3 separate regions of the Homo sapiens genome follow, and regions 2 and 3 are each linked to region 1. Evidence: fine-mapped expression QTL. A gene starts in region 1. Each other region holds a variant in brackets. All regions are shown on one strand. Distances are from middle to middle.

Region 1 (8,273 bases):
CGCATGGCGTTTTCCGCATCTGCGCGTGAGTAATATCTTAAGTATTAAGGAACACTAGCATTTTTCCAAACATTTCTGGAAATAGGGGAACAACATGTAAATGAAGCTGAGTTGTTAAAAAGTACAAGAGCTAATCCAACCAGATGGAGTTCAAAGACAGTAATTCAGCTTGCCCAGGCCTGTTTGCGATTGGTTTGGAAGCACATAGAGTCAAATATGACACGTATCCATGGCTACACTGATCATATTTCTTGGACATTCCTGTTGATAATTTTTGGTCCCATCATCTCTGTATTTTGGTTTGCAAGTTTAGATCACTGTACACTTCTTATCCAAGAAACCAGTGCTGTATATTCAAGTTAGGTTCTGTACATTCCAAGGCACCCTAATCAAGAGAAGGTCACCGTGCACGTGGAATTGTGCTGCACTTCACTAAAGGAAAGACTCAAGCTGTCACCAAGGTAGCAGTTCCCAAACCTACTTCATCAGAGACCTCCCTTTAATTAAAGGGGAAGACATTTAATCTCAGACAAATAAAAATAAGACAACAGTGTTCTGAATAAACCATCTGGAGAAACTAGTATCTTTGATGTTAGCAAGCCAAAATAAAATCTCTTTTCATTCTAGCATTTGGGAAACCTGTGTATCCCCGAGGCAAGCCTGCAATCTGGGAGAGAAGCCCTGCCTGGGTCCAGTGAGTCAGCATTCTTTTCCTTAATTATGAGCAGAAATCCAGGGATCACCAGACACTTAAGGAAAAATTTCAACCGAAACAAACATAATTCAGGGCACAGGAAAAAATTCAAAAGATATATTAAATTGGGCCTGCAAAATTTCTCAGAATATTAAATTGAATGACCAAAACATACAGTAAAAAGAACATAGGATAAATCCAAGAGGTCCAATACTTAAAAGAGTCTGAGTAAGGGAATTAAATGATCAAAGTAAATAGTTTTGGTTTGTACCTATACAGTCAGGTTATATACATCTATATAATGAAATACTATACAGCTATTTACTTAAAAGTTTTTTTCTTTAAAGATGGGGTCTTAACCCGTCACCCCCGCTGGAACACAGTCACAACTCAGTGCAGCCTTGAAATCTTGGGCTCAACTGATCCTCCTGCCTCAGCTTCCTGAGCAGCTGGCACTACAAACACCAGCCACCATGCCCAGCTGTACAGCTATTTTAAAAAAAGACCTACATATGCTGAAATGGAACAATAAAAAATAAAAAAATGATTTTAAAAACAGCACATGAAATACACTACCGCACACCCACAGGGTTACTTCTTGAAAGACGCCCAAGAAACTGGTAACTGACTGCCTCTGGCAAAGGGCATTAGGGGTTTAGAACAGTACGAGATTTTTATATTTTCACTACATTCTTTGGAATTTTTTTTTTTTTACGTGAAGGGCAAACATTCTTGAAAAACTTTTTGTTAAAGAACCATAAAGCATGGATTTCAGAAGAGAATATAAATAGTATCAGCTTTACAGTATAAGGGCAGAGACACACTGGGTGGAAAGTAGGAGGGAGATGAAGGAAAACGTAGGGACGAGTGCAGGGACGCTTATGAGCTACCACTCTCAGCTCTACCCTGGTTCAGCAGCTACATTAGATCCATGGGAAGGATACTCCACAAAACAGAATCCACATGCTGTTTTCTTCATTTTATCCAGACCCATAATGATTTTCTTTATGTCACCACTTTTGCTGAAGAGTTCATAGATTTGTTCTTCAGTTGTGTAAAAAGAAAGATTTCCAACATATAACGTACAGCTTTTCTTCAGTAATTTTTCTTGTTCTTCATTGTCACCCTAGAATTTCAAATAGAGACAAAAGTTAAGCAACTTCAGAGCCTTGCTTAAATAGTATTTCTAAGTACGGTAGAGACATTCATTAATTCTGGTTTGGAAATCAACTTCTCTCATCCCAGCCTACCAGAAATCCCTTGCCCAAAAAGGGGGATGTCGACCTTCTGTGAAGCACTTATGCGAAGTCCAGACTCTTAGTAGAGACAGGGCTCAAAAGTTATACCACATACAACAAAGTCACTTCTACGCCCGACTGCCACGCAAGCGGCTTCCCTTTTCCCTGCACACACCATATCCTCAGCAGTGCATCCTTTAAACCCAAGTGTAGACTCTGGACCTTGACCCAATATATGACAAAGGGCCCTTTTATCCTTCGTAGTGAAAAATAAGTGGGTTTTCAGAGAGAGAGAGAGTTCCTCTTTAATAACCCCCTAGAGACTGTTGAAAGCCACAACCTTGATGCTTTACGTGCTCATAGATCTTTCTCTGAGTTTAGGGGAAAATGTAGTGATCACTAAAAACAAAACAGAGCTCACTTTCTTAATGGGCTTCCAAATTGGGATGACAGGATGAAGCCAGAGACTTAAGCATATAACTGGGCTTCATCCAACACACCTGACAGACAAAGCCCTGGGTCCAAAATGGCTCATCGGGGTCAGGCGCGGTGGCTCATGCCTGTAATCCCAGCACTTTGGGAGGCTGAGGCGAGTGGATCGCCTGAGGTCAAGAGTTTGAGACCAGCCTGGCTAACATAGTGAATGAAACCCTGTCTCTACTAAAAATACAAAAATTAGCTGGGCATGGTAGCAGCGGGCGCCTGTAATCCCAGCTACTCGGGAGGCTGAAGCAGGAGAATCGCTTGAACCTGGGAGGTGGAGGTTGCAGGGAGCTGAGATTGCACCACTGCACTTGAGCCTGGACAACAAGAGTGAAACTCTATCTCAAAAAAAAAAAGTCCACAGGACAATAGTCATTGTATGTTAAAAAGAGGTTTTCGGAACTTTGGAGTGAGACATTAGAGAAAGTAAATTCCTTTCATTTTACTGCTGTTACTGATTTGTGAACATGGAAAGGAGGCATCTTCTTTTTCTACTTTTCTCACACATGTAAGTAAGATCCAAATAAATAGCCTACAGTTTAAGATAACTGTGGTGTAAGTGCTTAAAGTATATTAATATGGATTCCATTCACAGAATGCTAGAAATTCCACATGACAGTATGGCATTAGCATCTAAAAAAAGCTACAGGTTTAGACTGAGGAGATGAATAATAGACAAAGTCAGAAGGTTCCAGTTTTCATCTCACAGGATGCTTTAAGTTCAAAATGGTCAGGATGTGGAACTGTCTAAAGTAGTAACTAAAAGTGGTAGAAGTGCAAATCATGCCTGGCACTTAGGCATCCCAGCACTTTGGGAAGCCCCAGGCAGGTGGATCGCTTGAGTCCCAGAGTTCGAGACTGGCCTGAGCAACACAGGGAGACCCTGTCTCTACAAAAAATTAGCTGGATGTGGTGGCGCGAGCCTGTGGTCCCAGCTTCTCAGGAGGCTGAGGTGGGTAGGATCACTTAGGCTCAGGAGGTTGAGGCTGCGTGAGCCGTGATTGCGCCACTGCACTTCAGCCTAGGCAATAAAGCGAGACTCTGTCTCAAAAAATAAAATACATTAACTGAATAAATTTTTTTTTTTTGAGAAGGAATATCGCTCTGTTGCCCAGGCTGGAGTGCAGTGGCGCGATCTCACAGCAACCTCCACCTCCCCGGTTCAAGCGATTCTCCTGCCTCAGCCTCCCGAATAGCTGGGATTACAAGCGCCTGCCACCACGCCCGCCTAATTTTTGTATTTTTAGTAAGACGGGGTTTCACCATCTTGGCCAGGCTAGTCTTGAACTCCTAACCTCGTGATCCACCCGCCTCAGCCTCCCAAAGTGCTGGGATTACAGGCGTGAGCCACCGTTCCCAGCCTTGACTAAATAAATCTAAGAGCTTCCCTAATTTAGCGTCAAACAAAATTTCCCTTTCCCTACTCTAGTAACACATTTCACACATTCTCCACACTTACCCTCTGCTATATGCGCCCCTTCCTTTCCCAGTCACAAGGGGATTTTTCCCTTTTCTGAATCCTCACTACAGGGGATTATGAGCTCGCAGAGCGCAGAAACTGTCTTCCCTCTCCCTCTAGGGTTTAGCACAAGGATTTGGCGACAGCACTCGATAAACGTTTACTAAATAATTGGGTTAATGAGTCCCGCCCCGCCAACCCCCAACCGTATTCCATCCCTACCTCCGCTGATACTGAAAAGTCTACTTTGAATATCTGCTGCCTCCCCTTTTTCCACAAAATATACTGTGATATAGTCCGGACTAAAAATTTCCCTCTTCTGAAATCCAGCAATTCTCCGATCTTTACATCCGAACACCCTCAAAGTGCCGAGCTTGGCGGGTCCACCTCCCCACTCCGAAGCTTCCCCGAGGGCGGAGTGAGGACTCCACTTGTGTCTCCCACGCACCGCGTACAGCTTCCGTAACACCATCCTCCCAGAGAAGGGGCCCGAATCGCCGAAGGGCACTGCTTCGCCGATTTAAAAAACAAAGCAAAAAGCCCCGCATCTGCATCAGGAAGGCGCCTCTGCCTACTCTGGGAGAGAGAAGGGCACCCCTCCCCCTTGCTACGTAGTCGTCTGCGGAGGCACAACCGTGGAAACGGGAGCCGCCACCACCACCACCGCTCAAACCTCTCGGCACTGGCTGGGGTACAGGGAGCGGCTGCGAGCGAATGGGATAAGCGAGCCTCCAGTTCCCCGTCTTCCAGAGCAAGTGGCTTCAGTGATATCCAAGCGCCCTTCCAGCACCCATTCCCTGCCTCGCCAGCAGGCACCGGGGCCCCACTTGGCGTTTGCGGATTTCAGCTGAATGGGAGGCGACACAATGAGACAAGAGCAAACCGTTTCTCAGCGTTCTTGCCCAGGGCCTTCCCGTCTCGCGGCCCGGCCTCCCTCACCCGGAAGTGCTGGTCCCGGTACTGGCTCAGCTCCACGTAGGAGTCGCTGCGCAGCGCCTTCAGGAGGCCACCCGACATAGTGCAGAGAAGCGGACCACAATGCGGCGACTCCCGGCACGAGGCTGCGTCCGCGATGGCGGAAGCGGAAACGCGCGGAGGCGAGCATCTCATTGGACCCAATCCGAGGGCGGCGTGTCGTCATCAAGCTGCGCGGGGGCATAGACGTCCGGGTCGGGCGCCGCGGGGCGGAAGACGAGGGCGGCGAGGTCGGGTTCCGGGCGCTTGGAGAAGATGGTGCTGCGGCGGCTGCTGGCCGCCCTGCTGCACAGCCCGCAGCTGGTGGAACGTCTGTCAGAGTCGCGGCCTATCCGACGTGCGGCGCAGCTCACGGCCTTCGCACTGCTGCAGGCCCAGCTGCGGGGCCAGGACGCGGCCCGCCGCCTGCAGGACCTCGCGGCTGGGCCCGTGGGCTCCCTGTGCCGCCGCGCTGAGCGATTTAGAGACGCCTTCACCCAGGAGCTACGCCGCGGCCTCCGAGGCCGCTCGGGGCCACCACCAGGTAGCCAGAGGGGCCCTGGCGCAAACATTTAATCCTGGGCTGTGCGGGGCCGAGGCCGCTTGCTTTTCCTTCCGGGCTCTACAGTGGCATCAATGTGGAGGGGTCATTCCGGGCACTGCGCGCGGCTTCGAATCCCGACTGGGATTGTTGGCCTGCAGACATCCCACGCATAAGAGCCTAGGCCAGACCGCCCGCTCCGTTGAAGTCTTGTGATTGGACAAGACACAGTGTGGAGACAGCCCTAAGCCTAACAGAGATGAAGGTAGGCTGGGTCCAGACACGGCACCTACGGAGAGCCACGGACCGAAGCCAGAGAGCCTTTCCTCTGCAAGTGGGACTGAAACTCTTGACAGATGCTGCTCAATCTGACTGGTATAGCAGGACAGTTAATTCCAGGGACGATATGGATGAAAAGACAACCCTACAGCTGCCAAATTCCTTTGATTAAATGTGTGAGCTGGTTGATAGGCATGAGTGTGATACTTCTCAGGCAAGATGTGTTAAGAATACCGGGGACTGTAGGCCTATGGTAATAATAAACACGTATTTTATGAAATGAGTCTTCTGTGCTGGGACTTGCTCATTGCACTCTATGTGTTATCTCACTCCTTACAACGACATTCACATGAGGAAGCAGATTACTTTTTGGATTTTTTTGTAGAGATGGGGTGGTCTCGAACTCTTGGGCGCAAGTGATCCTCCCGCCTCAGCCTCCCAAAGTGCTGGGATTATAGGCAAGAGCCACTGCGATGGAAACAGAGGCTGCTGCTTAAGTTGCCCAAAGTCTTGCAGAGTGGGATGTGAGCAGAGGCATTTGACTCCAGGGCCTAAGTCCTTAACACAGCTCTGCAGCATTTACCCTGATACTCAACCCCTTCCTTCCCCAACCCCCCACCATCAGGCATTAAGACTACTGCCTAGGGGCAGGGCCTGGTGGCAGTTGTGTCTTATCCCAGCCACTGCAGAGGCAGGAGGATCGCATGAGCCTGAGATGAGACCAGCCTGGGTAGCATAGCGAGAACCTTTCTCAAAAAAAAAAAAAAAAAAAAAAAAGACTACTGCCTGCCATGGAACAAGTTACCTGGACTCCTATCCTGTGGGGAAAAGAGAGATCAGATTGTTACTGTGTCTGTGTAGAAAGAAGTAGACATAGGAGACTCCATTTTGTTCTGTACTGAGAAAAATTCTTCTGCCTTGAGATGCTGTTAATCTGTAACCCCACCCCCAACCCCCTGCTCTCTGAAACATGTGCTGTGTCCACTCAGGGTTAAATGGATTAAGGGCGGTGCAAGATGTGCTTTGTTAAACAGATGCTTGAAGGCAGCATGCTCGTTAAGAGTCATCACCACTCCCTAATCTCAAGTACCGAGGGACACAAACACTGCGGAAGCCCACAGGGACCTCTGCCTAGGAAAGCCAGGTATTGTCCAAGGTTTCTCCCCATGTGATAGTCTGAAATATGGCCTCGTGGGAAGGGAAAGACCTGACCGTCCCTCACAGCGTGACACCCGTAAAGGGTCTGTGCTGAGAAGGATTAGTGAAAGAAGAAGGAACGCCTCTTTGCCGTTGAAACAAGAGGAAGGCATCTGTCTCCTGCCCGTCCCTGGGCAATGGTGTAAAACCCGATTGTATGTTCCATCTACTGAGTTAGGGGAAAACCGCCTTAGGGCTGGAGGTGGGACATGGGGGCAGCAATACTGCTCTGTAAGGCATTGAGATGTTTATGTGTATGCATATCTAAAGCACAGCACTTAGTTCTTTACCTTGTCTATGACACAGAGACCTTTGTTCACGTGTTTATCTGCTGACCTTCTCTCCACTATTATCTTATGACCCTGACACATCCCCCTCTCCGAGAAACACCCAAGAATGATGAATAAATACTAAGGGAACTCAGAGGCCGGCGGGATCCTCGTCTGCTGAATGCCGGCCCCCTGGGCTCCCTTTTTTCTTTCTCTATACTTTGTGTCTCTTTCTTTTCCAAGTCTCTCCTTCCACCTAACGAGAAACACCCACAGGTGTGGAGGGGCAACCCACCCCTTCACTACCCCTCATTTTAGAGGGTCAGGGATACAGACAGACTACGATCCAGCCAGTTAGCAGACCTGCGATTAGGAAATCCATTGTATATAGAAATGTCCTGTCATTTGAAGCTCCTAGCTAAATTTCTGATTTTTTTTTTGAGACAGGACCTAACTCTTGCCCAGGCTGGAGTGCAGTGGCACAATACTAGCTGTCACTGCAACCTCGACCCGTTGGGCCAAGCGATCTTCCTCCCTGGGACTCCCAAGTAGCTGGGATTACGGGCCCATGACACTATGCCCAGCTAATTAAAAACTTTTTTTCTGTTTTTTTTGTTTTTTTGAGACGGAGCCTTACTCTGTCACCAGGCTGGAGTGCAGTGGTGCGATCTCGGCTCACTGCAACCTCCACCTCCCGGGTTCAAGTGATTCCCCTGCCTCATCCTCCTGAGCAGCTGGGACTACAGGTGCGTGCCACCATGCCTGGCTAATTTTTTGTATTTTAGTAGAAACGGAGTTTCACCACGTTGGCCAGGATGGTCTCGATCTCCTGACCTTGTGATCTGCCCACCTCGGCCTCCCAAAGTGCTGGGGTTACAGGTGTGAGCCACCGCGCCCAGCCACAATTTTGTTTTGTTTTGTTTTTGGTTGAAATGGCATTGCACTTTGTTGCCCAGGCTGGTCTTGAACTCCTGGCCTCAAGCAGTTCTCCTGCTTCCGCCTCCCAAAGTGCTGGGATTACTGGTGTGAGCCACCACACCCAGCTCTGATCATTTCTAGTTAGGCAGCACAGTTAATCATGCAATCTAGAAAGCTTGAAGCCATCGGAAAAATTGAGGCTGGTAACCAGACACTAGCTGAGTGTTGTGTGTTCTCTGCC
Region 2 (8,000 bases), 34 kb before region 1:
GGTTGCTTGTGTTTGTTGTCTGTTCTAGGTTCACTTCTTCAACAGCTTTTTTCATAGACAGCTGGTAACCAAAGGATATAATGGAGTAAAAAGATGGACTAAAAAGGTATTCTCTTTATTTCTTTTTTATTCCAAATTTGAAACGCAGATGATAAACCACTTTGTGTGGAAGGATAAGTACTTTAATGCCAATACGATGTTAAGTAGAAACAGACTTTTTAATGTGACAAGTTTTAAATTTGTTTCTTTTAAATCTTATTGTTTGAAAGACCTTAATTGCCTACTGGTCCCAATTATAGTGGTAGAACAGTGGGATGATAAAGAAGGAGCTGCCATCATTTGGTGTTATCTGGTAGGCTTGTCAGCAGACAGCAGAAGCTTTCAACAATTTTTTGCTGGTGCTGGGCACGGTGCCTCGCACCTGTTGTCCCAGCTACTTGGGATGCTGAGACCAGAGGATCACTTGAGCACAAGCATTTGAGGCCAGCTTGGGCAACATAGCCAGATCCTGTCTCTTAAAATGTTAACTGATCCATCAGGAGAAATAACTTTTATATCACAATCTATTCATAAAATCTTATACATACATGTAATTGAAATAATTTCCAAAAACCATGTACCTAATTTACTATGTATGATGTACTCTAGTCAGAGAGTGGTAAGTGCTATTTGCTATGGAAACATCAGAACACAGTATGAGAATACAAGGTAACTGGGATAGGGTAGCAGGAGGAAGATGGGCTAGTTCTTTTAGATAGGCTTGTCAGCAAAGGCCTCTTTGAAGAGATCCCATTTCACTGAAAACTGTGAAGATCAGAGGAGCATTCCCAGTAGATGGAAGAGTGAATGTTAAAGGCCCTGAAGCAGAAGTGAGTTTGGTATATTGGAGTATTACACACATGAGATCAGGGAAGGAGGCAGGGATCAAGTCATGTGGCGCCATATAGGCCCTGGTAAAGAGTTTGGATCATGAGGGCAATTTGAAGACATTAGAGAGTTTAGGCCAGGTGCGGTGGCTCACGCCTGTAATCCCAGCACTTTGGGAGGCTGAGGTGGGCGGATCACTGAAGGTCAGGAGTTTGAGATCAGCCTGGCCAATGTGGCGAAACCCTATCTCTACTGAAAATGCAAAAATTAGCCGGGCTGTGATGGTGGGCGCCTGTAACCCCAGCTACTTGGGAGGCTGAGGTGGGAGAATCGCTTGAACATGGGAGGTGGAGGTTGCAGTGAGCCGAGATTGCACTATTGCACTCCAGCCTTGGTGACAGAGCGAGACTCCATGTCAAAAGAAAATTAAATAAAAAATAAAAATGAAGACATTAGAGGGTTTAAGCAGCAGGCAAGGAGTGTGTATGAGTGTGTGTGTAAATGATAGATAGGATTGTCCTTAGCAACATTGATTCATTCATTCATCATTTATTTATTGATTTATTTTTTGAGATGGAGTCTTTCAGGCGCTATCTTCGCTCACTGCAACCTCTGCCTCCTGGGTTCAAGCGATTCTCCTGCTTCAGCCTCCTGTGCAGCTGGGATTACAGTCACCTGCCACCGTACCCGGCTAATTCTTGTATTTTTAATAGAGACGGGATTTCACTATGTTGGCCAGGCTGGTCTCTAACTCCTGACCTCAGGCAGGTGATCTGCCCGCCTCAGCCTCCCAAAGTGTTGGGATTACAGGGTAAGCCACCGTGCCCGGCATTAAACATTTATTGAGTACCTGTTATGTGCCTATATGGAAAAACTTTTTTCCTTTGCTGTCACACCACAACAGTAGTCAGCACAGAAGACTTCTGTGACCAAAGCAAGCAAGCAAGCAGTTCTGCAGCGACCACTGGCTGGATGCCCTCTAATTCAATTCCGACCTGTCTACCTGGAGACAGTGCCACGTCCCATAGTTTGAGGGCTCATGCCTCAAGAGTGCCCCCCACCCACTTCAGACACCAGTTGCAAGTCCAGGCTTCTGAAACTTCTGACCAACAGACTTCAAGTGAGGGTTCCCATGCCGCCCTCCTTGAATTTGATTAATTTGCCGGAGCGGTTCACAGAATTCTGGGAAGTTCTTACCTACATTTAGCAGTTTATTATATAGGATATTACAAAGGATTCAGATGAAGAGATGCATGGGAAGAGATGTAGGGGAGTGGGCACAGGGATTCTCTAGGACCTCCACAGGCACATCACCCTCCAGGAACCTCCACATATTTAGTATCCAGAAGCTCTCCCAGTGCAGTCAGTTTTTATGGAGGCTTCATTACATAGGCGATTGACTAAACCAGTGACCATTGGTTAACCTTTAGCTTCTCTTCTCTCCCTGGTGGTTGGGGGGTTGGGTGGGGCTGAAAGTCACAATCCTCTAATTCTGCCTTGCTCTTATCCTAAAGCCACCTAGCAGCTGCCAGCCATCAGTTAATCATCAACATACAAAAAGACATCACTTTGGGCCTGGGTCATGTCCCCGTAATCCCAGCACTTTGGAAGTCTGAGGCAGGCAGATCACTTGAGGTCAGGAGTTCAAGATCAGCCTGGCCAACATGGTGGAACCCTGTCTCTACTGAAAATACAAAAATTAGCTGGGTATGGTGGCATGTGCCTGTAGTCCCAGCTACTTGGGAGGCTGAGACAGGAGAATCGTTTGAACCCAGGAGGTGGAGGTTGCTGTGAGCCGAGATTGCACCACTGCACTCCAGCCTGGGTGACAGAGCAAGACTTTCTAAAAAAAAAGAAAAAAAGACATCAGAAATTCCAAGGACTTTAGGGAGTTGTATGCCAGGAAATGAGGTCAAAGACCAAATTTATTATTTTACAGTATCATAGTGCCAGACATTATAGTAAATCAAGAAATAAAGAGGTAAGTAAAACAATATTAGAGACAGTTTTTGCTTTCACAAAGTCTGCAGTCTAGTGGTGGAGACAGCACCTACCACAGTTTGTATTTATATTTTTGGTGGTGTAATTATTTGTTTAGTGGGTACAAAAGAAAAGTACTACAGGAGTGTATTGGAATGCAGGTTTGGTTAACCTAGCCTGAGGGTAAGGGAATGTTTCTCATAGGAAGTAATATTTAAGCAGAAATATCAAAGATGAATACAAGTTAACTAGGTAAATGGAGAATAGGGGTATGTGAAACATAGGCAGAAGGAATAAGTATCTGGTAGAAGAATGGGAAAAGGCTAGTGTAGCTGAAATGCAGAGAGTTAAGAAGACAGTGGCATGAAGTGTACCTGATCCACAGATCAGGGCCTTGAGGTTTGTATTTTGGATTTTATCCTAAATGTAATAGGAAACCATTGAATGGTTTTTAGTGACATTATCCACTTTGTAGTCTTTGTTCTAACAGTACTGAAGAAGATGGATGGGTATGGGAGCAAAGTTGATGTGGGCAGAACAGGAGACCATTTCAGATTCATGGTACTTTGAAGTAGAATGATAGCAGGAGAGATGGAAGATGAGTGTGATGTAGGAAGTAAAATTAACAGGATTTGGTGATAAGTTGGTTATGGAGATGAAGGACAAGGAAGTGTGAAAGATGACTTCCAAGTATGTGACTTGTATGACTGGACGGCCTATGGTTGTATTTACATTAGAAAAATGTAGGACAACTAGTAGAGGATTGTTCAAATTTAAAATGTACAGTCATATAATTGGATGCTACTTAAGCAGGAAAAGCTGTGTAGATAATGAACGATGGGCCGGGCACAGTGGCTCACATCAGTAATCCCAGCACTTTGAGGGGCCGAGGCAGGC[G/A]GATCACGAGGTCAGGAGATAGAGACCATCCTGGCTAACACGGTGAAACCCCATCTCTATTAAAAATACAAAAAAATTAGCCGGGCGTGGTGACGGATGCCTGTAGTCCCACTTACTCAGGAGACTGAACCCAGGAGGCGGAGCTTGCAGTGAGCCAAGATCGCACCACTGCACTCCAGCCTGGGCGACAGAGAGACTCCGTCTCAAAAAAAAAAAAAAAAGATAATGGAAGATGCTTATATTCCATTTGGGGTGGGAAAAATTACAAGCAGTGTGGGCAAAAAATATACATTCATGGAAAAGTATCTGAATGATAAACATGAGAGTGAAAGAATAAAGTCAAATATGTGAGTTGTTTCATTAAATAATAAACTAAATTATTCCTTCCTCTAGATCAGGGGTGTCCAATCTTTTGGCTTCCCTGAGCCTCACTGGAAGAAGAAGAGTTGTCTTGGGCCACACATAAAATACACCAACACTAACAATAGCTGATGAGCTAAAACAAAAAAAATTGCAAAAAAGATCTCATAAAAGAAAGTCTACAAATTTGTGTTCGGCTGCATTCAGAGCCGTCCTGGGCTGCATGCTGCCCGTGGGCTGTGGACTGGACAAGCTTGCTGTAGATCCTCTGAGATTGGGTTAAGTAAAAAAAAAAAAAACCCAGGTTTATGCTGAATATAAGAAGTATACATAAAATAATATGAAAAAGAAAGGTTGAAAATGAAGTGACATTTAAAGAGGCTGGGCGCTGTGTCTCACATCTGCAGTCTGAACACTTTGGGAGGCCTAAAATTACTGTAGATGGGAGGATTGCTTGAGCCCAAGAGTTTCAAATCAGCCTAGGCAACCAAGCGAGACCCCGTTTCTATAAAAAATTTAAAAAACTTAGCTGGCCATGGTGGCAGCCTGTGGTCCCAGTTATCCAGAAGGCTGCGGTGGGAGGATCACTTGAGCCTGGGAGGTCGAGGCTGCAGTGAACCCTGATCACGCCACTGCACTCCTGCCTGGGTGACAGACTGAGACCTTGTCTCAATTTAAAACAAATAAAAAAGGCAACTACAGGAAAGTTAAACAACCTGTTCCTGAATAACTCCTGGGTAAATAAAGAAATTAAGGCAGAAATCAAGAAGTTCTTTGAAACCAATGAGAACAGAGAGACAATGTACCAGAATCTCTGGGACACAGCTAAAGCAGTGTTAAGAGGGAAGTTTATAGCACTAAATGCCCACATCGAAAAGCTGGAAAGATCTCAGATCAACATCCTGACATCACAATTAAAAGAACTAGAGAAGCGGCTGGGCGTGGTGACTCATGCCTGTAATCCCAGCACTTTGGGAGGCTGAGGCGGGTAGATCACCTGAGGTCAGGAGTTTGAGATGAGCCTGACCAACATGGAGAAACCCCATCTCTACTAAAAATACAAAATTGGCTGGGTGTGGTGGCACATGCCTGTAATCCCAGCTACTTGGGAGGCCGAGGTAGGAGAATCACTTGAACCCGGGAGGTGGAGGTTGTGGTGAGCTGAGATTGCGCCATTGCACTCCAGCCTGGGCAAGAAGAGTGAAACTCTGTCTCAAAACAAACAAACAAAAACAACAACAAGGAAATAGAGAAGCAAGAGCAAACAAATCCAAAAGCTAGCAGAAAACAAGAAATAACTAAGATCAGAGCAGAACTGAAGGAGATAGAAACACAAAAAAACCCTTCAAAAAATCAGTGAATCCAGGAGCTGGATTTTTTGAAAAAATTAACAAAAAATACCTCTAGCTAAACTAAAGAAGAAAAGAGAGAAGAATCAAATAGACACAATAAAAAATGATAAAGGGGATATCACCATTGACCCCACAGAAATATACAAATTACTATCAGAGAATACTATAAAGACCTCTACACAAATAAACTAGAAAATCTAGAAGAAACGGATAAATTCCTGGACACATACACCTTCCCAAGACTAAATCAGGAAGAAGTGGAATGTCTGAATAGACCAATAACAAATTCTGAAATTGAGGCAGTAATTAATAGCCTACCAACCACAAAAAGCCCAGGACCAGATGGATTCACAGCCAAATTCTACCAGAGGTACAAAGAGGAGCTGATACCATTCCTTCTGAAACTATTTCATAACAATTGAAAAGGAGGAACTCCTCCCTAGCTCATTTTATGAGGCCGGCATCATCCTGATACCAAAACCTGGCAGAGACACAAAAAAAGAAAATTTCAGGCCAATATCCCTGATGAACATCGGTGCGAAAAATTCTCAATAAAATGCTGGCAAACCAAATCCAGCAGCACATCAAAAAGCTTATCCACCATGATCAAGTTGGCTTCATCCCTGGGATGCAAGGCTGATTCAACATATGCAAATCAGTAAACATAATCCGTCATATAAACAGAACCAGTGACGAAAACCACATGATTATTTCAGTAGATGCAGAAAAGACCTTCGATAAAATTCAGCATCCCTTCATTTAAAAACTCTCAATAAACTAGGTATTCATCAAACATATCTCAATAATAAGAGCTATTTATGACAAACCCATAGCCAATATCAGTGGGCAAAAGCTGGAAACATTCCCTTTGAAAACTGGCACAAGACAAGGATGCCCTCTCCCATCACTTCTATTCAACATAATATTGGAAGTTCTGGCCAGGGCAATCAGGCAAGAGAAAGAAATACAGGGTATTCAGATAGAAAGAGAGGAAGTCAAATTGTCTCTTGCAGATGGCATGATTCTATATTTAGAAAATGCCATCGTCTCAGCCCCAAAACCCCTTACGTTGATAAGAAACTTTAGCAAAGTCTCAGGATACAAAATCAATGTGCAGAAATCACAAGCATTCCTATACGCCAGCAATGGACAAGCAGAGAGCCAAATCATGAATGAACCCCCATTCACAATTGCTACAAAGAGAATAAAATACCTAGGAATACAGTTTATAAGGGATGTGAAGGACCTCTTCAAGGAGAACTACAAACCACTGCTCAAGGAAGTAAGAGAGGACACAAACAAATGGAAAAATATTCCATCCTCGTGGATAGGAAGAACCAGTATCTTGAAAATGGCCATACTGCCCAAAGTAATCTTTTTTTTTTTTTTTTTTTTTTTTTTTTTGAGATGGAGTCTCGCTCCATTGCCCAGGCTGGAATGCAGTGGCATGATCGTGGCTCACTGCAACCTCCACTTCCCGGGTTCAAGCAATTCTCCTGCCTCAGCCTCCCGAGTAGGTGGGACTACAGGCATGCACCACCATGCCCAGCTAATTTTTTGTATTTTTAGTAGACACAGGGTTTCGCCGTGTTAGCCAGGATGGTCTCGATGTCCTGACCTCGTGATCCGCCTGCCTCGGCCTTCCAGAGTGCTGGGATTATAGATGTGAGCCACCACTCCTGGCTGCCCAAAGTAATTAATAGATTTAATGCTATTCCCATCAAACTACCATTGGCATTCTTCACAGAATTAGAAAAAACTACTTTAAAATTCATATGGAAACAAAAAAGAGCCTGTATAGCCAAGACAATCCTAAGCAAAAAGAACAAAGCTGTAGGCATCACATACCTAACTTCAAACTATACTACAAGGCTACAGTAGCCAAAACAACGTGGTATTGGTACCAAAACAGGCATATAGACCAATGGAACAGAACAGAGACCTCAGAAATAACACCACACATACACAACCATCTCATCATTGACAAACCCGACAAAAGCAATGGGGAAAGGATTCCCTATTTAATAAATGATGCTGGGAAAACTGGCTAGCCATATGCAGAAAACTGAAACTGGACCCCTTCCTTACACCTTATACAAAAATTAACTCAAGATGAATTAAAGACTTAATTGTAAAACACAAAATCGTAAAAACCCTAGAAGAAAACCTAGGCAGTACCATTCAGGACATAGGCGTGGGCAAAGACTTCATGACAAAAACACCAAAAGCAATTGCAGCAAAAGCCAACATGGATTCTAATTAAACTAAAGAGTTTCTGCTCAGCAAAAGAAACTATCATCAGAGTGAACAGGCAACCTATAGAATTGGATAAAATTTTTGCAGTCTACCCACCTGACAAAGATCTAATATCCAGAATCTACAAGGAACTTAAGCAGATTTACAAGAAAAATAAACCATCAGAAAGTGGGCAAAGGATATGAACAGACACTTCGCAAAAGAAGACATTTATGTCTGTAGTCTCAGCTACTCGAGAGGCTGAGACAGGAGAATTGCTTGACCTGGGAAGTGGAAGTTGCAGTGAGC
Region 3 (8,273 bases), 460 kb after region 1:
TTGATGGCTGAACATTTTGGACAAACTTCAATGTTTTCAACAATAAAATTCCAGATTTGGAAAGGACCTGTAGGTCATTTGGCTTAACCTCCTTGAACTCACTGTAGAAATTTCTTCTACAAGCCTCTGTGTTATCTTTTTTTTTTTTTTTTTTCTGAGACGGAGTTTCGCTCTTGTTACCCAGGCTGGAGTGCAGTGGCACAATCTCAGCTCACCACAGACTCCTTCCCCCAGGATCAAGCTATTCTCCTGCCTCAGCCTCCTGAGTAGCTGGGATTACACGCATGCGCCAACACACCCAGCTAATTTTGTATTTTTAGTAGAGACGGGATTTCTCCATGTTGGTCAGGTTGGTCTCGAACTCCTGACCTCAGGTGATCCACCCACCTTGGCCTCCCAAAGTCTGGGATTATAGGCATAAGCCACCGTGCCTGGCCTGTGTTATCATTTACTGTCACTATATCATAATATCGAACAACTTTTACTAACAGAAATTCTTCCTCATTTCCCCAGACCAGTCACCATGCAATGTCCCCGCACTGGCCCCACTCTGCCCTTTAAAACATCCTTGAACATGTGTGTTCCTCTTCCCACACAGCTCTCCAGATGATTGAGGACCACACTCACATCCCTCTGAATCCACTGTTTATTCCTTTAACAAATATCTCTCTAGAGCCTGCCATGTTTCCAGCACGGAGGCAGGCACCTTGTAAACTCCACGAAGGCAGAGAGGTCAGTCTAACTTGCTTCATGTGGTAACCACAGCACCTAAAAGGGCTTTCTGTGCAGTAGGCATTTAATACATATTTGTTGAATAAATGAATGAATACGAAGGTGGATAACATAGTCTCTGTCCTCAAGGAACTCTTAGTGTAATGGGAGTGGGGGAACAGAACTATAGGCAATTCTAATCTAGGAGCCATGAGAGAATGTGAGTAGCAGAACCTCAAAGGACAGGCCCCTAACCCAGCATTCGTTACCTTCCCTTCTCCACTGTGAGGGATCATCCATTACCTTCCCTTCTCCACCACCTCCCTCATGCACTGTGATGTCAGCCACATCATTCTGTCATGGTATGTCTGCGTGTCTGTTTCCCAATGAACTGTCAGCTCTTTGAGGACAGGGACTGAGTTTTATTTAGCTTTATAACCCTAATGCTTAGCACAGGGTCTGGCCTAGAGGATGCATTTCTTATTTATTTATTTACTTAGATTCATTTTATTTATTTATTCGCTCTTGTTGCCCAGGCTGGAGTGCAGCGGCATGATCTTGGCTCACTGCAACCTCCACCTCCTGGGTTCAAGTGATTCTCCTGCCTCAGCCTCCCAAGTAGCTGAGATTACAAGTGCCCACCATATGCCTGGCTAATTTTTGTATTTTTTAGTGGAGACGGGGTTTCACCACGTTGGCCAGGCTGGTCTCCAACTCCTGACCTCAAGTGATCCGCCCACCTCAGCCTCCCAGAGTGCAGGGATTACAGGCGTGAGCCACCATGCCCGGCCCATATTCGTTAAATGAAGTGACTGACGGATGAATGGATGGCTAAATGAATTAATATATTAACACTCCCACAGAAAAAAAATGAAGTATCTGCTTTCATGGGATTAAATTAGTCTTGCCTGATATTTTATCAATACAAAAACTTAGTGAAATAGAAGTGACAGCAATCTTGGGAGGAAACGACCATGACACCTAGGGCTCCACAGAGCCTCACTGTTTCAACCAACATTGAATGAGCACCTACTCTGTGCCAGGTGTGCTGCCAGACTCTAGGTCAAGACAAATGAGACACAGCTCCTGCCTTGAAGGTGCTCCCCGACTAGATGAGGAGATGCACATGGAAATCACGAGGCCGCAGGTGACTCTGACAGGGTGACAAGGGTGCTGTGCAGGGTGGGATGGTCAGGAAAGCCACTTGGAAGAGAAGACGCCTGAACGGGGTCCCGAGGAAACTGTCCGGGTAAGGAGATGAAGGAAGGCCATTCTAGGTGGAGGGAGCAACAGGGGCAGAGCCCGAAGGGTGAGGACAGGCCGTTTGCAGGTACTGCATAGCACCTGGGGAGAGCAGGGAGTGGAGGGAGGGGGAGCGGTGGAGGTGGGGCCAGATCGGGAAGGGCCTTATAGGGCTGCTAAGGAATTTGGACTTGACCGTGATGAGGCCATGAGGGAGCCATTGAAAGAATTCCAAACTCCCAGGATAATCAGATTTTTTGCGTTTTAGAAGATTGTTCTTACAGCACTTTAGAAAATGGATTAGGCTTGCACGGTTGGTGGCTCACACCTGTAATTCCAGCACTTTGGGAGGCTGAGGTGGGAGGATCACTTGAGGCTAGTCGGCCTCCCCAAGTGCTTGGATTCCGGGTGTGAGCAGCACTGTCTCCCTGGCTGCTTCAGTCTTCTGCAGACAAAAGGCTCTGTTAAATTTGCAAGTTACAAGCACCTGAGCCACACAATGGGCCAATCAACCAAATCATGTGTAAAGCTATCTCCTGGCTGTGAGGAATAAAATCAATATTTTAAGACCTTAATTTTTCAAATGCTATACCCCAGAGGTGATTCATAACTTGAGGAGCGCCTCAGTAGGAGAACACGGGCTAAGGATTTGTGTGAACATGGCTTAGCCTGCAATTTCCCATATGCAATCGGTCAAAGGGCTGACAAAAGATAAAATCACAGAACTGTTCTGACACAGCTTCCCAGGGAGATCCCAGAGGAGCCAGGCTGCTCCCGCTAAGAAGCCTAGACTCAAAATAAGGAGAGAAGAAACTTGCACTAAGGAAGGAGCTGCGGCCCCCAGGGCTCTCCGAGTGCTGGTGTCTTCAAGAATTCCTGCATCCTTTGCACAAAGTGGGGCTGGTAAAGTGGCAGGGGTGGGGTGGGAACGGGGGAGAATGGGACTCTTCCAAACACTACCTTTAGAATAAAGTGTAAAATATTGGCCGGGCGGGGTGGCTCACACCTGTAATCCTACGAGGTGGGCGGATCAACTGAGGTCAGGAGTTCGAGATAAGCCTGGCCAACATGGTGAAACCCTGTCTCTACTAAAAATACAAAAATTAGCTGGGTGTGGTGGCGGGCGCCTATAATCCCAGCTACTTGGGAGGCTGAGGCAGGAGAATCATTTGAACCCAGGAGGCGGAGGTTGCAGTGAGCCGAGATTGCACCATCGTGCCATTGCACTCCAGCCTGGGGGACAAGAACGAGACTTCGC[T/TAAAA]AAAAAAAAAAAAAAAAAGTAAGCTATTTTCTGAGAAAGTGCCAGTCGTCTTGTATCCCTGCCCCTAAATCATCACTTCATGCAGGAAATTAGCCTCCTGTCCGTGGTGCATGTGCCATTAGGACCATGTGTCACTGAGTGGACTGGCATGGGGGTGGCGGATCAAGTTAAGAGTGTGGATGGAGGCCGGGTGCGGTGGCTCACTCCTGTAATCCCAGCACTTTGGGAGGCTGAGGCGGGCGGATCACTTGAGGTTGGGAGTTCAAGACCAGCCTGACCAACATGGAGAAACCTCATCTCTACTAAAAATACAAAATTAGCCAGGTGTGGTGGTGCGCGCCTGTAATCCCAGCTACTCGGGAAGCTGAGGCAGGAGAATTTCTTGAACCCGGGAGGCGGAGGTTGCGGTGAACCAAGATCGTGCCATTGCACTACTCCAGCCTGGGCAACAAGAGCGAAACTCCGTCTCAAAAAAAAAAAAAAAAAAGAGTGTGGATGGTTTGGTAAAAACTCACCTCACTAACGGAGGAAGCAACCAAACCCAGCCTAGAGAAATGGAGGCGGCGTAGCATCGTGGATGCTCCTGGATTGGCATGAAGAAGCCTTGAGTTCTGAGTCCCGGGCTCTGCCACTGTGTGACCTTGGACAAGACAACGATCCCTCTCAGCATCAGTTTCTGTAACACTAAAATAATGATAATAATCTCCTCCGTACTGGGTTCTTGGGAAGATGAAATGCGGTTAAGAAGATTTGCAGGAGCACTTTGCTGTTCCCTCAGACTGTGTATTAGTCAGGACACTGCTTTGGTTTCTGTAACAGAGACCAAAATAATAATGGCTTAAACGAAATAGAATTTATTTTTCTCTCACATGAAGCCCCACGCTGGTGTGGCTGCTCTGGCCTGTGAGGTCATCAGAGCCCCGCTTCTTCTGTCTTACTGGCTTCCTTAGCCTGCTCCAAGATGGCTCCCTGCCAGGACCACATGCCAGCCAGCAGAAGGGGCGGGGGGCCGAGGGAGGGCAACCCTGTCCACATAACCCAGCACTGTCTACACGCTTCCTCCCTCTTCCTGTTAGGGTCCAGCGTCACATCCACCTCTAAGAGAGGCTGGGAAATGCAGCTGTTTTCTGGGAAGCCTATACTCAACTAAAAATTCTGTGATTATGAAAGAAGAGGAAATGGACTTTTTTTTTTTTTAGATGGAGTCTCACTCTGTCGCCCAGGCTGGAGTGCAGTGGCGCGATCTCAGCTCACTGCAACCTCCACCTCCTGGGTTCAAGCATTCTTCTGCCTCAGCCTCCTGAGTAGCTGGGATTATAGGCGACTGCCACCACGCCTGGCTGATTTTTGTATTTTTAGTACAGACGGTGTTTCACCATGTTGGCCAGGCTGGTCTCCAACTCCTGATCTCAGGTGATCTACCCGCCTTGGCCTCCCAAAGTGCTGGGATTACAGGCTTGAGCCACCATGCCTGGCCCGAGGAGATGGACTTTGAGGGACAATTCAAAGTCCGCACGATCTCCCCTATTTGTTTGTCTAATTCCCTTACATCCTCAGGTCTCGGGTTTATGTCACTTCCTTGGGGAGGCCTTTCCAGACCCTCAGTGCTCCATGAGCCGCCCCCATTGCTCCCTCACGCCTCCTTCACAACACTCGCTGCGCCTGTAATTTTTGACTGACTGTCTATTTTCCCATGAGAAGGTAATTCTGTACCCATGGACTGTGCTTCCTCCCGAGGCCTGCCTGTGGAGGCACAGAGTGGATACTCGATACATCACTCTGACGGGTAGCGAGGTGCGATCCCCAGAGGGCTCTGGGAGCTCCTCGGGCAGAGCTTCACGGCTTCGGGCCACCACCAAGTCCTCTCCAACCCAGGATGTGTTTGGAAAGAAACTGGTGCCTGCTACTGCTTCCTCAGTGGTGGGCGTGCCGGCACCGTGTCCTTTTATCTGCTAGTCCTCTCTTTGTGTGGGCCTCTAGAACTGCTCAAGTCCAGCCTCAGATAGTCCGTGAGGGGGTAACTGTGCCTTTTCGTAATCTTGCTTCTCAACTCTGTTGTTCAGGATCTGGGAATGAACAGAGGGTGTTGTGGGAAGAGCTTTTCCCAGCACAGAGGCCAGAATGAAGGACACAGGGAGAGATTTGGTTTTCCATTCCCGGTCTCTATAATGCAACTAATGGGCCCGAAGCCTGCCCTGTGAAGAGGTGGGGAAGGAACCTCAGTAGAGGATGTCACCAGGGAGTTGACCCCCACCCCCTCTGTGGGGGCAGATGGCTCCCCAGGGTCTGGGCACTGTTTGGCTCCTGGGCAGCTCCCTGGTGCTCCACTTCAGTAACCTCTAGCTCACTCTGGCTTTTTTCTTTCTTTTTTTTTGAGACAGTCTCACTCTGTCGCCCAGGCTGGAGTGCAGTAGTGTGATCTTGGCTCACTGCAACCTCCACCTCCTGGGTTCAAGCAATTCTCCTGCCTCTGCCCCTGAGTAGCTGGAATTACAGGTGTGCCCCACCAGGCCCAGCTAATTTTTGTATTTTCAGGAGAGGCAGGGTTTCACCATGTTGGCCAGGTTGGTTTCAAACTCCTGACCTCAGGTGATCCACCAGCCTTGGGCTCCCAAAGTGCTGGGATTATAGGTGTGAGCCACTGCACCTGGTCTCACCCTTGTTTTGACATAAAACGCATCCTTTTCTAAGAAATCTTCTTAGCTCATTTTCTTTGTTCCGAAGAATGTCTTTTGGGAATTTCGTCAAACATGACTCTGGTTCTCGTGTTGAGTGGAGGGCTATGCCCTGGGGTTGACCTTTATCCCATTACATTCTCGGCACCCTCCATTTTTCTTTGATTTAAACTAGAGGGAAGCTTGGCTTGGGCTTGGAGCAGTCAGCTCTTTCTGGCAGTCTGCAGAGCTGCTGAAGGGGAAGTCACCAGACACCAAGCCCTGGCGGTTGCTAGGTGCTCAGGTTACACTGATACACAAAATGAGCGTATTCAAGACCCAAGTTCAAGTTTCCCTGCTTATAATTTTCTGGAGAGTCAGGGAGGGAGCAGCCATATCCTACCCACAGCCCCTGGGAACTCTGCCTCATGTCTGGCATCAAGGGAATCTTTCCTCCCAACGGTGGCACAGGACTGACCTGGGAACCCACACAATTGCAGCTTCATTCTGGCAGCTGGGGTTTTTGCCCCATAAAATGGCAGTGTCCCTTTAATTCCCTGCGGGTCTCCTCTCCGGGCTGGCAGTAGGTTAAATGGATCAACTGACCAGCCCTTTCTCACTGGGGGTTGTGGGATGGAAATTCTTCTTACTTGCTTCAGCTTGTGTCCAGGAACAAAGAACAGTTAAGCAGGGATTAACTTTTCCCTCTGTTGGTTTCTCTGTCCTTTCTCAGAAGAGTACACGTCTAATTCAGGGACATAGGTTCCTCTTGGAGCCCCACTTCTTTCCTTCCTTGACCATCCATGGAGCTATTGACTGTCCCAGCTGTTCTAGTCTTCTATACTCCCACTGTGGGGAGCAAAGTGTCTCTCTGGGTTGATTTCCCAGCGTGGCTCCTTGCAACTCTGATTTTAGCTTCACCTATTTCTCTCCAGCACATACCCTGGACTGGCCCTCTACACATTCCAAAAACTTTCTATTAGTGATGTTATTTCCCCAAGTAGCCTTCTTTTCTGAAAAGAGAATATATTGAACATCTTATACACACATTCTTGTTCTCATTGAGATTTGACAGCAAAGGGTGGTAGAAAGCGCACTGATTTGAGAGTTGGGGTTTCTGGGTTCTCATTCTACCTTTGGCATTAACTAGTGTGTGACATGGAGAAAGTCGCTTCCCTTGGCTCACGGTCCCCTCTATAAGGCCAGTGAGTCCTTCCAATGCTAACTCTCTAGTGTCTATATTGAATAATCTTGCCATCTCTTGTGGGTTTGATCAGCATTTTGTCAATCCCCATGACAAACCAGTTTCCAGTTTGGCATGTTTCTGGTGGAGCTAAGGCTGTTGGAACGTGGGAACTGGTCATGATCCATTCTTCATTCTCTCCATTGAGGGCACCCAAAATAAAAGCCAATGGTTTAACGACAGTACTCGGGATGGGGACAGCTGAGATTAGGCCCAGGACGCAACCTCCTCACACTGATATTGAGACCACAGGAGACTGTGGTATCTTGTTCTTGCGGATTCCATGACAACCTGAAGTGTCCATCTCAAAAATGTCATCCTACCACACCATATCCCTCGCCTCCTAAACTCACACCTTAGGCCAATCCTGAGGGCAGCATAGTAACTGGACATGACCCACCAACCATGCTCCAGAAGAGACATCCTGGCTGCCACAGGTCTGCACCTTCCCTGCTGAGGCAGAGCCTTCTTTCCTGAATTTGTTTGCCAAATTCATGTGTCCCCAAATGGTCCTTCTTATAGAGATGTCTGATTTGCAATCCTTACAACACCTTCATTGCTTTAAAAGAATGCAGGAATGGCTGAATAGGAACAGCTCCGGTCTACAGCTCCCAGCGTGAGCGACACAGAAGACGGGTGATTTCTGCATTTCCAACTAAGGTACCGGGTTCATCTCACTGGGAAGCGCCAGACAGTACGTGCAGGACAGTGGGTGCAGCGCACCATGTGCGAGCCAAAGCAGGGCGAGGCATCGCCTCACCCAGGAAGCACAAGGGGTCAGGGAATTCCCTTTCGTAGTCAAAGAAAGGGGTGACAGACAGCATCTGGAAAATCGGGTCACTCCCACCCTAATACTGCGCTTTTCCAACAGGCTTAAAAAACAGCACACCAGGAGATTATATCCCGCACATGGCTCCGAAGGTCCTACGCCCATGGAGTCTCGCTCATTGCTAGCACAGCAGTCCGAGATCAAACTGCAAGGCGGCAGCAAGGCTGGGGGAGGGGCGCCCGCCATTGCCCAGTTAGTTGTTTGATTAGGTAAACAAAGCGGCTGGGAAGCTCCATCTGGGTGGAGCCCATCACAGCTCAAGGAGGCTTGCCTGCCTCTGTAGGCTCCACCTCTGGGGGCAGGGCACAGACAAACAAAAAGACAGCAGTAACCTCT

The links. PIP is the estimated chance that this variant, and not a neighbour inherited with it, causes the effect.
Region 2: its variant is fine-mapped to the expression of NCBP2 in whole blood (INTERVAL, PIP 0.97).
Region 3: its variant is fine-mapped to the expression of NCBP2 in monocytes after interferon gamma (Fairfax 2014, PIP 0.95).

The regions. Positions count from the first base shown.
Region 1 is chr3:196,937,613-196,945,885 of GRCh38, forward strand. NCBP2 (nuclear cap binding protein subunit 2) reads right to left here and starts at 4,916. Exons shown (of 4, transcript NM_007362.5): 1 at 4,814-4,916; 2 at 1,639-1,820; 3 at 1-36. The coding sequence starts at 4,891. NCBP2AS2 (NCBP2 antisense 2 (head to head)) reads left to right here and starts at 5,062. Exons shown (of 1, transcript NM_001355243.2): 1 at 5,062-5,931. The coding sequence starts at 5,105. The coding sequence ends at 5,404. It overlaps NCBP2-AS1 (NCBP2 antisense RNA 1), which reads left to right and starts at 2,265. Exons shown (of 3, transcript NR_046630.1): 1 at 2,265-2,515; 2 at 3,362-3,530; 3 at 4,781-4,922. RefSeq lists enhancers at 4,248-4,921, 4,380-4,619, 4,650-4,789, 4,840-5,139, 4,922-5,595 and 2 more.
Region 2 is chr3:196,903,505-196,911,504 of GRCh38, forward strand. SENP5 (SUMO specific peptidase 5) reads left to right here. Exons shown (of 10, transcript NM_152699.5): 6 at 29-106. Among named protein-coding and RNA genes, the nearest start is that of NCBP2-AS1, 32 kb to the right of the region's middle. The variant G/A (reference allele first, on the strand shown) is at 3,745.
Region 3 is chr3:197,402,244-197,410,516 of GRCh38, forward strand. No RefSeq gene overlaps it. Among named protein-coding and RNA genes, the nearest start is that of LINC02012, 100 kb to the right of the region's middle. RefSeq lists an enhancer at 7,450-8,273. The variant T/TAAAA (reference allele first, on the strand shown) is at 3,212.